Homo sapiens: one gene and its partner. The main gene of each other region encodes a partner of the protein of the gene in region 2 in a complex. Each region holds a gene or a part of one and is shown on either strand. Other genes may lie near its edges.

Evidence for each region. Proteins that work in one complex are often made in the same cells at the same time.
Region 1: the proteins of INHBB (region 2) and BMPR2 are in contact, whole or in part, in a crystal structure (PDB 7U5O), measured with the Homo sapiens proteins. Residues at the interface, in NP_002184.2 of Homo sapiens: Phe309, Asn318, Asp319, Ile322, Ala323, Pro324, Gly326, Tyr327, Tyr328, Thr379, Met380, Ser381, Met382, Leu383, Phe385, Asp386, Asn390, Ile391, Val392, Lys393, Asp395, Ile400; in NP_001195.2 of Homo sapiens: Tyr40, Tyr67, Leu69, Val80, Lys81, Trp85, Ser86, His87, Ile88, Gly89, Asp90, Gln92, Ile108, Gln109, Tyr113, Phe115.

The regions. Positions count from the first base shown.
Region 1 is NC_000002.12:202,379,159-202,386,326, forward strand, and holds part of BMPR2 (bone morphogenetic protein receptor type-2 precursor), read left to right. Parts: intron 1-7,168. UniProt on the Homo sapiens protein: On ligand binding, forms a receptor complex consisting of two type II and two type I transmembrane serine/threonine kinases.
Region 2 is NC_000002.12:120,341,617-120,349,499, reverse strand, and holds the start of INHBB (inhibin beta B chain preproprotein), read right to left. Parts: upstream 3,365-7,883; 5' UTR 3,312-3,364; coding exon 2,864-3,311; intron 402-2,863; coding exon 1-401. Other genes in the region: translation initiation factor IF-2-like, read right to left, coding at 3,586-4,613, 5,473-5,578. UniProt on the Homo sapiens protein: Inhibins and activins inhibit and activate, respectively, the secretion of follitropin by the pituitary gland.

The DNA of each region.
Region 1 (7,168 bases), about 82 Mb from region 2:
ATTTGTGAAGCTGGATTTCAGACCTGTAACAGTAATGATAATAGCTAGTATTTATTAAGTGCCTGCCATGCACCATCAGCTATTCAAATAACTTTACATATATTTTTTCATTTCGTCTTCATGACAATTCTATGTTGTAGGTTATTATCATTCCCCTTTTCCATAGAGGGAGAGTAAAGTACAGAGAATTTGAATAACTCACCACACAGTCAGTAAATTATGGAGCCAGGATTATAGTGTGCGCCCTCACATACCACATTAATGGTAACAGCAGCACTAGCAGCAACAACTTCTCATCTTATTGGATATATGAGATGGAGTAATTAGCCTTCACCAGATCAACCTTTGTAAAGAAGCAGGGACACTTACAAGGTGTTAGTGCAGCAGTGGTTATGCAAATGTCGTAGTTCTGAACATGTAAAACTTTGCTTGGCCTAATATTGAAGTGGCTAGTGCAGCTTCATTAAGTGCAAGCTGATTAGAGAGGGCCTGTGTGGATTTGGGTTACACAGATGCAGTGATGTTAACTCGACAGGCGCAAATGGTGCAGCTGAACAGGAAAATAAATCCTAGAAGACTGATTGATAGCACATCCTTTTTCGGGGTCATGGATAAATCATTTCTTTTGATTCCCTCTTTCTCACTTATTGAGTTCTTGGACTCCTTAATTCTTAGAACATTTTCTTTCTTTCTTTCTTTCTTTCTTTCTTTTTTGTTCAGACAGAGTATCACTCTGTCGCCCAGGCTGGAGTGCAGTGGCACGACCCTGGCTCACCACAACTTCCGCCTCCCAGGCGCAAGTGGTTCTCCTGCCTCAGCCTCCAGACTAGCTGAGATTACGGGAGCCCACCACCATGCCCAGCTAATTTATTTTTATTTTTTGTATTTTTAGTGGAGACGGGGTTTCACCATTTTGGCAGGGTGGTTTCGAACTCCTGACCTCGTGATCCACCTGCCTCGGCCTCCCAAAGTGCTGGGATTACAGGCATGAGCCACCACACCCCGCCTAATTCTTAGAACATTTTCTATGCCCCCCCCAAAAAAAAAAACAACTTATGAAAAATAAGATGTGCTGGCTTGGTTTATGAATGAATTCTTAATAAAAGAATACAACACAGCTATTATTTAAAGGTCAACTTCTGTAATGCGTTTTAAATAATTCACTTGATTAGATTGCAATTTTACATACATCTCTTGAGGAACACACACATTATATAAAGTAAGATTAATCTAATGTTAGTGAATATTACTGAGTAACTGAAGTTTAGTAATCTTCATTTTAGTTTTTCTCAAAGTGTGGGTACTGCAACAGAATTACCTGGGGTTCTTGATAAAAATGCATATTTTTGGCCCTATAGTCCAGATGTACTGAATGAATCTCTCTGGGAGAACCCCCGCAAAGTCTCACTCAAGCAGGTGCTTGAGAAGCACTGCTTTATATCATCAGTCCTGATTGTTTGGATTTCTTTCTTTTTTTTTTTTTTTTTGAGTTTTGCTCTTGTTGCCCAGGCTGGAGTGCAATGGTGTGATCTCGGCTCACTGCAACCTCCACCTCCCGGGTTCAAGCAATTCTGCCTCAGCCTCTCGGGTAGCTGGGATTACAGGCATGTGCCACCACTCCTGGCTAATTTTGTATTGTTAGTAGAGACAGGGTTTCTCCATGTTGGTCAGGCTGGTCTTGAACTCCTGATCTCAGGTGATCTGCCCGCCTCGGCCTCCCAAAATGCTGGGATTATAGGTGTGGGCCACTGTGCCTGGCCCTGGCCCTGGCCCTGGCCCTGGCCCTGGCCCTGGATTTCTTTCTTTCTTTTTTTTTTTTTTTTTTTTTTTTTTTGAGACAGAGTCTGGCTCGGTCACCCAGACTGGAGTGCAGTGGCGCCATCTCAGCTCACTGCAACCTCTGCCTCCCGGGTTCAAGTGATTCTTCTGCCTCAGCCTCCCAAGTAGCTGGGACTACAGGTGTGCACCACCACACCCGGCTAATTTTTGTATTTTTAGTAGAGACGTGGTTTTACCATATTGGCCAGGCTGATCTCAAACTCCTGACCTCGTGATCTGCCTGCCTCTGCCTCCGAAAGTGCTGGGATTATAGGCATGAGCCACCACGCCTGGGCTGGATTTCTTAAATATGGTGATTCAGTGACATTTTGCTGTGTAATTATTGGCAACCACAAAATCTTAGTGGCATGCAACAATAGGCATTTATTCTGCTCCATGTGTCTCTTTCTGGGGTCCAGGCTAGAGGGAGAAGTAACATCTATCTGGGGGAGGCTTGTGTCATGGCATTGGCAGAAGTGCAAGAGGCCAAGCCCAACCCTACCAGCACATTTCCAGACTCTGCTCTCCTAACATCCCATTGGCTGACCGAGTCATATGGCTAGGCTAAGCTCAGAAACAAGAGGTATCAAAGTACACTTTGCCTGTGATGAGGCTAATGTAATATTTGGATATATAGTACTATTGCAGAAGAACGAAGAATTGAAATTCTCAGTAGACCACATATAACCAGTAAGATGGTCCAGAAGGGAGGCTTTTCTTACCCTTTGAAGAGGGCCAACCTCTTAATTAGTTTTTTGCATTAAAATGATATAAACTTTGGTCTCTACAAAAGCTATTCTGGCATGTGGGATGATGTGATAGTAGTGGTATTGATGTGGATGAGTAGTGAGGTGAGAGATAACTGTTCACACAAGACAAAACCTTTCCTTCATTAAAGGCCAGTTTTTTTTTTAACAAAAAGAGAAGAAATTGAATATTGATCTCTAATGGGTAAATTCTAACCATTAAAAAAATACTGAGTGGAATCTGTGTGAATCAGTTAATTTTATAATTGGCCACACCACTTATTTTGGCACCTACTCATAGATTGCTGTGCTGCTGGATATCAGTTTTTGTTTTTGTTTTTTTTTTTTTTTTTTTGAGATGGAGTCTTGCTCTGTCACACAGCCTGGAGTGGAGTGGCACGATCTCGACTCATTACAACCTCCACCTCCCAGGTTCAAGCCATTCTCCTGCCTCAGCCTCCCGAGTAGCTGGGATTATAGGTGTGCACCATCATGCCTGGTTAATTTTTGTATTTTTAGTAGAGATGGGGTTTCACTATGCTAGCCAGGCCGGTCTCGAACTCCTGATCTTGTGATCCACCTGCCCTGGCCTCCCAAAGTGCTGGGATTACAGGTGTGAGCCACCACACCCGAAATTTTTTTATTTTTAGTAGAGATGGGGTTTCACCATGTTGGCCAGGCTGGTCTCAAACTCCTTACCTCAGCTGATCCACCCACCTTGGCCTCCCAAAGTGTTGGGATTACAGGTGTGAGCTACCGCACCTGACCAGGTATCAGTTTTATGTATTTGCCTTGTCCTTCCTACTGATAATTGCTTCCAGAGGACAGTATTCATGTCTGATTAGTTTTATAATTTAGTAGACATTTAAGAAATACTTAGTGAATGAATAATAAATAGGAATTTCAACCAGGAATATTCTAGGGTTGTTTATTGACTCAAATAACACACCAATAACTTTTTCTTTGTCCTAGTTCCTTCAACTATAAAGTATGTAGTTTAAGAGGTATAGTGGGAAGACCACTGTTGGGAGTTAATGAGACCTAGATTCTATATGATTCCGGGCAAATAGGTTACTTAACATAGTTTTCTTACTTGTAATAATATGGGGTTGTACTTGATCATTTTGAAATACAGATTCATGGGTACCCCACTAGACCTACTGAATCCAAATCTCTGGACAACGAGCCTGGGAATCTGCCTTTGATGCCCTCATCAGCCAGTAAATTTTAGGTACCTTTGAGAACTACTGGATCTAAGATTCTTTCTAACTCTCAAGTTCTATAACTTTATTTCTACTTTTTGTGGTAATTACTACTTAATCTATATCTTTTATTGCTTAATCTGGTAAACATTAGGAACAAACATTTCTTAATTTGTGCATTAAGCAATTACCCAAAATCTTTTCCTTTTAAAAATTTGCAGTGTGGCCTGGGCGAAGTGGCTTACTCTGTAATCCTGGCACTTGGGGAGGCCAAGGCAGGCGGATCACTTGAGGTCAGGATTTCGAGACCAGCCCTGCTGTACAAAAAATACAAAAATTTGGCTGGGAGCTGTGGCTCACACCTATAATCCCAGCACTTTGGGAAGCCAAGGCGGGCTGATAACCTGAGGTCAGGAGTTTGAGACCAGCCTGACTAACGTGGTGAAACCCCGTCTCTACTAAAATACAAAATTAGGCCAGTTGCCATGGCTCACGCTTGTAATCCCAGCACTTTGGGAGGCCAAGGTGGGCTGATCACCTGAAGTCAGGAGTTCGAGACCAACCCGGCCAACGTGGTGAAACCCTGTCTCTACTAAAAATACAAAATTAGCCGGGTGTGGTGGCACATGCCTGTAATCCCAGCTACTCGGGAGGCTGAGGCATCGCTTGAACCTGGGAAGCGGAGGTTGTGGTGAGCCGAGGTTGTGCCTTTGCACTCCAGCCTGGGCAACAAGAGCGAAACTCTGTCAAAAAAAAAAAAAAAAGAAAAAAACAAAATTAGCCACGCGTGGTGGTGCATGCCTGTAATCCTAGCTACTCAGGAAGCTGAGGTAGGAGAATCACTTGAACCTGGGAGGCGGAGGTTGCAGTGAGCCGAGATCGTACCACTGCACTCCAGCCTGGGTGACAGGGCGAGACTCCATCTCAAAAAAAAAAAAATTACTATTTTCAAAAGCACTAATATTGGCTGGGCCTGGTGGCTCATACCTGTAATCCTAGCACTTTGGGAGGCCGAGGCTGGTGGATCAACTGACGTTAGGAGTTTGAGACCAGCCTGGCCAACATGGTGAAACCCCATCTCTACTAAAAATACAAAAATTACCCGGGCGTGGTGGCGGGCGCCTATAATCCCAGCTACTTGGGAGGCTGAGGCAGGAGAATCACTTGAACCCAGTAGGCAGAGGTTGCAGTGAGCCAAGATTGTGCCACTTTACTCCAGCCTTGGCAAAAGAGTGAAACTCCATCTCAAAAAACAAAACAAAACAAAAAAACACTGATATGAAAGATTATATGCATGCCTAGAATCACAATGCCCAACACTGTACCTTAACCCTGCCTTGTGCATCAGTAACGTTTAAAATACATTACCCAAATTATCAAGATATAGTGCAAAATGTGTGCAATCATTCACGTCTTAAATGTGTCGACGGTGGACTTGGTGGAAAAATTATGAGACATGATAAAGTATTGTGCCAGAGGCATTGGCCTAAGAATTTTAGATGGAGTTAGGTATTTGGGACAGTTAGGTATTTGATCCACATCTCTTTCTGGAAGGTTAGATGCAAATGGAGGTTGAGAAATTTCAGTTTCTTTCTTTCTTTCTTTCTCTTTCTTTCTTTCTTTCTTTCTTTCTTTCTTTCTTTCTTTTTCTTTCTTTTCTTTCTTTTCTTTCTTTCTTTCTTTCTTTCGACGGAGTTTTGCTCTTGTTGCCCAGGCTGGAGTTCAATGGCAAGATCTCTGCTCACTGCAACCTTCACCTCCCGGGTACAAGTGATTCTTGTGCCTCAGCCTCCTGAGTAGCTGGGATTACAGGCATGCACTACCACACCCAGCTAATTTTGTATTTGTAGTAGAGACGGGGTTTCTCCATGCTGGTCAGGCTGGTCTCGAACTCCCGACCTCAGGTAATCTGCCTGCCTCAGCCTCCCAGAGTGCTGGGATTACAGACGTGAGCCACCGCACCTGGCCAAGAAATTTCAGTTTCTTAAAACCAGATCTCACTTCCCCTTTCTCCTTCAAGACAGTAGTTTGCCCTTATAATTGGTGTCAAAAATGTACATGATCATGTACTTTCATTCTGCCCCAGTAAGTTTAGTGCAAAATAGGAAAATTTAGAACAAAATGTGTTAATGATAAGTGTGAAGGGATGTATAAATATTTGGCCAGTAATCCAAATTCTTCAGTTTTTTGTTTCATTTAGATGAGGAAATAGTTAAGACTTTCTATTATTATTAATCTGTGTTCAGTCTTTGCTTTTGTAAATAAGAATAGTCTGTGAGCAAATCTATGTAATTGTAGTAGACACACCAGGCTAACCTTTTAGGGCAAGCTTTTTTTTTTGTTTTCATTTGAAAAATTAAGAGAAAAAATATTAATCTTCACACAACCCTAACACTTTTTGTTTTGGTATGTTTTCTTCTAATTAAAAAAAAGATGCTTTTTTTTTTTTTTTTTTTTTTGAGACGGAGTCTCGCTTTGTTGCCCAGGTGGGAGTACAGTGGCGTGATCTCGGCTCACGACAACCTCCACCTCCTGGGTTCAAGCGATTCTCCTGCCTCAGCCGCCCGAGTAGCTGGGACTACAGGTGTGCGCCACCATGTCCGGCTAGTTTTTGTATTTTTAGTAGACACGGAGTTTCACTGTGTTGGCCAGGCTGGTCTCGAACTCCTGACCTCGTGATCTGCCCGCCTCAGCCTCCCAAAGTGCTGGGATTACAGGCGTGAGCCACCACGCCTGGCAAAAAAAAAAAAAAAAGCATGTATTTTTATATGGTTGTGATTTTATAATATCTATTAATTATATCTGTTTTTTTTACATAGAATAATATAGTCATGTATATGTGATCTTAATAACTATCATTTTTTCATAATTGTGTGATATTCCATTGAGTGTATTTGTTATTTACTTAATTCATATTGGGAGATGTTTAGGTTGTTTCCGATTTTCTTCTCTAATAAACAATGCCATATTTAATACTTCTGTGCGTATGTCCTGCTTGTTGTTTGATTTATTTCCAAGTTCTTGTTTTGACCTATCTGTAGCATGAGCCAATTTAATCCTTTTTTTTCATCCTTCAAGTACTTTCTTCATTTGGCTTTTAAGATACTATTCTCTCTTGATTTTTCTCCTACCTCACCAGCAACTTTGATAGTTCCTCCTTATGTCCCTGATGGCTAAATGTTGTGTTTCAGGATTCAGTCTTTAGACCTTTTCTCTGTCTGCACCCACCCTCTTGGTGATCTCATCCAGTTTTATGGCTTTAAATAGCATCTAAAGGCGTACAAGTTTCAAATTTATTTCTATCTCAGACTTCTTTCCTTGAAATTCTGTTGCATGTAGCCAACTGTGTATCTGTCGTATCTACTTGGATGTCTGATATTCATCACAAACTTAACCTGTCCA
Region 2 (7,883 bases):
GCCCAGCCGAGCCTGCACCACCACAAAGGGCCGGTGCGACTCTTCGCCTGGGTCCACGAACACCGGCACCACGGCCAGCTCCTGGCAGCTGTCACACTGCACGTCTAGGTTGAGTCGCCGCTCGCCCCGCTCAAACAAGGCCTGGATGGCCTCCGTGAGTGGGAAGGTATGCCAGCCGCTGCGCTTGAGGTCCACCCTCTTCTCCACCATGTTCCACCTGTCACCGTGGCCCTGCTCCTGGAAGTACACTTTGACCCGCACCTTCCGCCGGCTGCCCTTCTCCAGGACGTAGGGCAGGAGTTTCAGGTAAAGCCACAGGCTGGCCTGGACCACAAACAGGTTCTGGTTGCCTTCGTTGGAGATGAAGAAGTATAGGCGGACCCGGGAGGAGGCGAGGCCATCTGCGGAAAAGGGGAAGGGCGAGCCAAGTTAATTCAAGGAGAACACAAGGCAATGGGGGAAACACACTCTCTGCTGCAGGATGCTGGAATGCAACTCGCCACACAGCTGGAAAACGTTACTGACCAGAAATACCATTCTTGGGGCCAGGGCCTCTGACTGTAACCTGGGAGAGGCAGAGAAAATCGTTTCTCATTGAGAAACCCGGACCAGGCTGGGGCTGGAGGGTCCGCGCCTATAAAATCCTGCCTCACCTCTCCCAGGCCAGGGCTCCCTGGAGACAGGCTGTCAGGCCTCAAAGCACAACAGAAGAACTTGTCAGGGGGCCAAGATCTTAACAAGTTGTTATGGGTATCTGTGAAATCTGAAAAACAAAACCAGGATCGCAGGGAGGATTTTGGGGTGGGTGGTTTTAGTAGGGCTTTTTTTTTTTTTTTTTTTTTTGGTTAACTTAGCGCATTGCAAAATCAAGCTGAGCCACCTACCGCCTCTTTCCAGTGTTTACCTAAGTATGATGTGATCCAACCCCCAGTGGAACCTCCACTGCAAACAAGCAGGCTCTGCTCAGGTTTCTGACATAGGAACGTGTGCTTTGCAGGCTGCAGAGCCTAGCCCTTATAGAATAGTTTCAAGGGACAGGACATTCAGCCTTAAAACTTGAGGTCCAATCCTTTGACAAGACTCTGGCTCCCTGTTAATGGCACGTTCAAAATCCCCAAGGAGTAGGGGAGCTGGCTAGTTAATTTTCTCAATAATTCAGCTCAACAAGAAGGAGGCTGTGCCAATCAAGAGATGACTCCCCTCTCATCCTACATTCCGGTGACCCTTGCCTCTGACAATCTACGTTTTTCTTTCCTTTTTTTTTTTTTTTTTTTTTTCAGGAAGAACAAATAATGAAACTCTGTGGTCAGGGCTGGTTTTATCAAACCTCCCACCATGCCCCTCCCAAGCCCCTACCTCAGGCCTCGCCTGGCTCCTCTAATAACACTGACATCTGACTTTGAAATGGGGGAAACTGCAGCCTTAAAAGCTGGTCTTGGACGAGCTGCCTGTGACCTGAATCTGTTATTTATAAGTCAAAGAGCTGGCTCCGTGAAACGGACCAGAAATATAACAGCCCCCGCTGTCATTTTGTGCCACCGGGACCAAAAGGCCTCCTCGACCTTCCAGAATCACATTTCTAACTCTGGGCCCCAAAGCACCTTTTAATCCGAGCCCTCTAATTGCATGGCGAGCTTTCCCTGACTCACTTTAGTGGACAGCTAAAACGGCAATGCATTTCTTTCTAAGCACAAACCAGCCCCGATTGTCTCTGCTTTTCTCCACACCCGGCCATGCAAAACTTTTCATCCCTTTTCATCCCCGGGCTGCCTGCTGCCTGGTGGGGTGGGGGGCATTTGCAGCCAGGGGCACAACCGCTCCCCCCACCGAGGCTCCCCGCTTGCCCCCGCCCTAACTGCACCGGGGCTTCCCCCTCTGCGACCTTCTCCGCAGTCCCCTCGGCACAAATGGGGCCGAGCTCCAGGCACAAAAGCCAGCCTGGCTCATTCAAGTCCTGAAAAGGACAGCGGAGTCGAAAGCACTTGCAGCATTTTGGCGCGGGCACATTTTTCTCCTTCTTTTAAAGTTCCGAAAGATTTTTCTCTCCCTGATTTTTATATTTAGACAGTGTTAGAGATTTGCAATCTGGGGCCGGGGGGGGGGGCGGATTCCAGAAAGGAGCCATACCCTTTGTTAACTACGACTCTGCCTCTCGGGCGAGGGGTCTGCTGCAGCTGCCAGGCAAGCCGAGAGGCACGGGGCTGTCCCCGAACCGCGGCTTTCTCTGTGTAAATGATGGACCTGTTGAGAAGCCTGCCTTCCGCCCGATTCCGGTGCCCACACAATCGGAAGAGAGGTTGCCTAGCTCTCCCCAGCGAGGCTTCAGCAATCCTGGCAAGCCCACGCCGCCGGTGATGGAAGCGGCCCCAGGGGCCTCTCACGCAGGCACACACACACACAGACACACACACAGATACACACACACTCTCTCTCTCCTCCGGCCCACGTATATCAACAAGCACACACATCTCCATCCACACTGCTAAGCCTACACTCCGATCGTGGGAAACAAAAACATTAAGCAATCACCAAGCAAGTGCCCGCAGAGCCAGGGCCGCGCGCATCTGCCGGGAGGGGGACGCGCGCCCAGAGGCGCTGGGGCCCGATTCCGGAGAGCAGGGGTGGAGGGCCAGGCGATCGGCGGCGGGGGGTTGAGGCAGCAGGCAAGGGTCTGCGGCCTGGGGGAAGAGGACTGCAACCCGGGCGGAGCGCGCAGGGCCACGGCCGAAGGAGCTCTGCCGGGAGTCCAGGCTGCCCCAGGGCGCGCGGGCTGCGGTGGCGGCGGTGGCAGCCGGAGCTAGCAAGGAGAGGGAGAGCGGGAGCGAGCGGGGACCGCGGCAGACAGCCGGAGGGCCGGACCCACCTGTCTCGGCGAAGCTGATGATTTCGGAAACGCGCTCCTGGCCGTCGGCGCCCGGGCTGGCGTGGCCGTCGAGGTGCGGGATCTCCACGCGGCCGTCCTCGCGCACCTTGCCCGCGTGCAGCTTGCGCAGGGCCGTGACCATGGCGGCCTTAGGCACGGCGTGCGTGATGTTGGGCCGGCCCCGCATCTGCAGGCGGCTCAAGATGTGCCGCTTCACCGCCTCCAGGAAGTCGCCGTCCACTCGGCCGAGCTCCTCTGGCCGCCGGAAGCCGCCGCACGACGTACAGGTGTCCTGCGAGCCACCCGGGGATCCGGGTGGCGGGGGTGGCGGCGGCGCGGCAGGCGTCGGCGGGGGCGTGGGTGAGCCCCAGGCCTCAGGCCCCAGCCAGCCGGCCGCCAGCAGCAGAAGGCAGGCGGCCCCCAGCGCCCGACCGGGCAGCCCGTCCATGGTGCGCCGCTGGCGACGAGGGCGCCCGCCGCGAGGCGAGCCGAGTCGAGCCGAGCGCAGGGCCGGGCTCCGGGCTCCGGGCGCGCCGCCCCGCCCCGCCCCCGCCCGCGCCCGCGCCCGCCCGGGCCTCCGCCCGCCCGCCCGCCGGGAGGGCTGCCGCCGGCTCGCAGGGGGAGGGGGCCGGCCGGGCCTCGGGGGTTCCCGCGCGGCAGGGAAGGGGCGCCGAGGGCCCCGGGGGCCCGAGGGGCGCGCCGGGCGGGGCGGAGGTCGCGGGTCACTGCCGCACGGGCGTCTCGGGGCGCCTCGGCATCTGCAGCCTTCTCCCCATCCTTTCCGCGTCGGGGGCCCCGCAGCCCCGGTTCGGGTGAAGCGAAAGCAGCGTCAGTGGGAGCGGCGGTTCGGCCGGCGGCTGGGGAAGGTGGCGAAAGAGCGGGTCCACGCAACTTGGCTGAGACGGAAGCGAAGGCGCTGGAGCCCCCCGGAGCGGAGCCGGGCGCGGCTTGGCGCGGCGCTGCGGCGGGCGCTGCGGCGGGGCCCCGCGCTCGCACCTGAGCGCCTCGCCCTCACTGCCTCGCGCCAGGAAGGGCCGCCGGCGGCGGAGACGGGCAGGTCGTCCTCGCCGCGGGCCGGCGGGCAGTGGCGCGGAGCAAGCTTGGTGCCCGGGAGAGCCGGCCGCGCGGGCCCGCTCACAGGCGGCGCCGAGCCCTCGGCCGCGGGCCCTGCAGTCCTCCCGGCGCGTCACACGGCAAAGTTGTCTCCAGGATCCCTGGGCGCCGCATCCACGGGCGGGCGGCCGCAGCGCGCTTCGCCGGGGCCTCTGCTCCGCCCGCCTCCTCGCAGCCTCCCTCCTTCCCTCCGCCTGCCTGCGCGGCCCGGCCGGGCGCGGGGCGCCGGGCGAGGAAGGCGAGGGGGAGGCAGGGCCCTTCTCGCTCCTGTCTCTTCTGCCTGCCGCGGCGGCGGCGAGGTCGGCTCGAGCGCCGAAAAGTCTCGCAGCGTCCCCGGGTGCAGTGCCCTCGCTCGCGCTCGTACTGGCACCCGCCGCAGGGCCGGGAGAGAGCGGGCGGGCGGCGGCGGCGTCCCCGCGCCGGGCCGCGGCACGGAGTGCGGAGCTCGCCGAGGAGGAGTTCTTCTCTTTGGTCTCTCTTCTTTTACTCTCCCCGTTTTTTCTCCCAAGGGGGAAAAAAGCCGCACAATCTCCGTATGTGCGCGCGCGTTGAGATAGACGTTGGCAGAAAAAAGGGGGGGAGGGAGGGTGTCGTCCTGCCCGTGCGAGAGGAGACGGTCCGTACCTCCCCGCTCGAGCTTCCCGGGGTGGGGGGAGGAGGAGAAAGCGGAATCTGTTCAGGTTGGGGCTGCCCGCTCCCCGCGCTCACCCCTGCTTCCCACCGCTTTTTTCCTTTCTGCCTTCCCGAGAAGGAGGGGCGAGCCGGCCCTCTCCCCTCCCCTCCTCTCCCCTCCCACCCCCCGCAATGCCGGGCTACTTTTGCTACCTCGAAACTTTCCCACCACGTGGGCGCCCCGGACCCTTGCCCAGCTGGGCGGCCGGCGGCACCGACGGGTTCCAGGCGCTGGACCCAGGCGCTCCTCCCGGCCCACTCCCGCCTCCCCGCCGCCGCGCAGGCCCTGCCTCTGTCCCAGCTGCCGCCCTCCCCAACCAGCAGAGGCGACTCCCGCCGCCGTGGCCGCCCCCGGCCCTCCCGGGGCGCTCCCTCGCGGCCGAGCCTGGCGAGGCGAGCGGGGTGCGGCGCGGCCTGGGATGCCAGAGGCAGGCTCCGCCGGCGGCTGCCGCTCTGGGGCTGCAGTGCCCTCACCCAGCTCCCCGGGCCGCCGTCGCACTGGCCGAGGCGTGGACCCTGCGAGCTGGAGGGCGGGAAGGCAGTAGCCACTGGAGGCCTGGCCAGCGGCTGCGTCTGCTGGGCCAGGAGGAACGCCCCGATTGTGCGGGATCCCAGGCGCGCGGCCCGGAGGCCACTGAGCCTCAGGGCTTGAGGGGCTGGCAGGGTCTACAGTACCCCACCCCCACCCCCACCCCCAGGGAATTCCCACTTTCGCCAGCAGACAAACTTTGGCTTCACTCAGACCCGGGTTCCACTCGGGCTCAGCCACTGCCAGCTTTGCAGGAGTGACCTTGGATAGAGTCCTCACCTTTCCTATCGCCTACCTCTTCTTCTGTGAAGGGACAGTAACACCTGTATCACAGGGGCTGGGTGGGAGGCCCAGCGAGGCAACTGGGCCAGGCTCTTCACACAACCCGATAAAGGATGGTTCTAGGGTCACCGTTCTCAGGCCACCGGACAAGGAACACTGTCAGTGGAAACTTGACTTTCAGACCCGTCCGGGGCCCCAAGTGCAATGCGCTCCTCTGTCCTTCTTCACGCCCCCACCCGGGTCTGGGGCCGCATGACAATGCCCACAGGACACGGAGCCGTACCCCGTTCCCTCGCAACGGGCTAGACTCAAGGCAGAAGCACGATGGGAGTTCATCCTGGCTTTCCCAGGATATTGGGGAATCGGGGACGTCGGAGGCGGAGCGTGGCCTCCTGCCCCCGCCTCCCACCGCCAGTCTCTCGGGCCAGCCCTGCCACCGTGGAGCTCGGCCGGGACCGCAGGCCCGCGGCGGCCTGCAAGTCTGGAAGCCGAGCGCCCCCTCCCTCCCAATCGGAGGAACCGACCCGAAGCTGGCGGGCAAAACTAGGGCGGGTGTGAGTTTGCCGACCGAAGTCAGAAGCAGGGATCCAGGAGGATCCCCGAGATGGCAGCCCTTCTGCCTCCTTAGAATCTCCACCAGGGCCAGAGTCTCTGCTCTCCCATCAGGTTGCCCTTGCCCTGCCTGGGAGCCTGTGGCCCGGGAGCTTCTGCCTCCTGGGAAGCACCTCCTGCATGGTGGCCTTGAGCCAGGCTGGCCACCTCCTGGTTTTGCTTGCATCTGCCCACCCGGCTGTCTCCGTCACCACAGCCACCAGCTACTTGACAAACTCATTCTCAGGCTCTCAGAGTCAGCCCAGTCTCTCCTCCTTGGCGAAGCCTTCCCTGACCCGGTTGTGCCCTGTATAGTTTTTTACCTGAGTGAGGCTCTCAGCCCAGTGCCTGGCTGTTATCTCCTCCCTTGTCTGTCTCCTGCATGGGAAGCAGACTTCCTGGGCCCTATCTGGTGCCAGACCTGGCAGATGATCAGGGAGAACTTATTGAAGTAATGATTGAATGAAGAAATGAGAGAAGCCATAAAGCCAATGAAGGAGTTCACAACCCCCACTCCCCAACACAAGCCCTCACAGGAGTGTTCCTGGCCAGCCCTTCTCATTGTCAGCCCCACCTGGGCTGGACAGGGCTGTGGAAAGGGAGAGAATATGGGTGAGGTTTCCCTGCCTTCAAGCCTTCAAGAAGATGCAGCATCCTGCCCATTGACCTGGCACCAGGGAGGGGCAAAAGCCGCCGTGTCCTTGCTGGTGGGAGGAGGGAAGAGGAGGTTGGGAGGAGGGTCCACACTTTGCTCCCCTAGTGGAGGAGCTGTCAGCCCCGCTGCCAGTCATCTGCTGGGAGGGAACTGGGTCAAGCGGTAGTCAGAAACCATCTGCTCGAGAAGCTGGGATTATCCTGCCCTCTGCTGATCCCCCAGCCCACGGGAGCCAAGGGTGTAAATTGAGTTCTTCCAAATCACCTTGTGTTTCTGGGGGGGGCTCCCCTTCCCCTCCTGAGGGGCAAGGACCTGTTCCTGTTGCTTCAAAGCCTCATTTAGCATCGAGCTTGGTTCTCCTTGTACTGGTAAACTCAGCCTTCCATCTCGGCTAAGGATGTGACTGCGTCTGTCAGTTTTGAATACAATAATGCACATCAGTGCCGTAGCCAACACCCTCCAAGCAGCTGCAAGACCAGGCCACCCTAATGCAGGATGCTGGCTCCCTGCTGCCATCAAGGAACTCCTTGGAGAAGGCAGGAAGGAAACATGGCGACACTGTAGATTCGGGCTTGCAGAAGTTGGAAGAGTACAGAGCACTTCCTCTCACGCACGCCTTTTTTTTTTTTTTTTTTTTTTTTTTTTTTTTGCATAACCCATCACTATCTGTTGAGGATGATGGAAACGTCCAAAAGTGACAAGGCAAACCATATACGTGAGCCTTAGGGCTCATTTGCAAAACAAATTGAGAACCCAGGTGCAGTTCTTGGCCCTGCAGCTCCTGCAAGGTGTGGAGTGGAGAGAAGGTCTTTGCACCACTAGGCACTAGGGTTCTGGCTGGAAGAAGGCCTTCGGCAGAGTTGGGCTTAGGGACCTGGCATGTATTTTTCTGTCACTGAAGCCACTCTTGCCAAGTTTCACCATCATATGTCACACCTCTCCAGAGCAACTCGATCTCTGCACAGAGGAGGTGCGTGCCAGGCCCAGTGCAGCAGTGTCCTGCTCAGCCAGCAGCCCTGGACACTGGCAATGGACGGCCTCAGCCTGGAGCCAGGTGGGAAGGAGAACCCAGCCAAGAGTGCCTCCTAGGGTTGGGGGTCAAGCTGGCCTTTGTAAGAGCTCAGAGACCAACATGGAGCCCCACAGAATGCCCCAAGGCCACCTCATGCCTTTGAGGT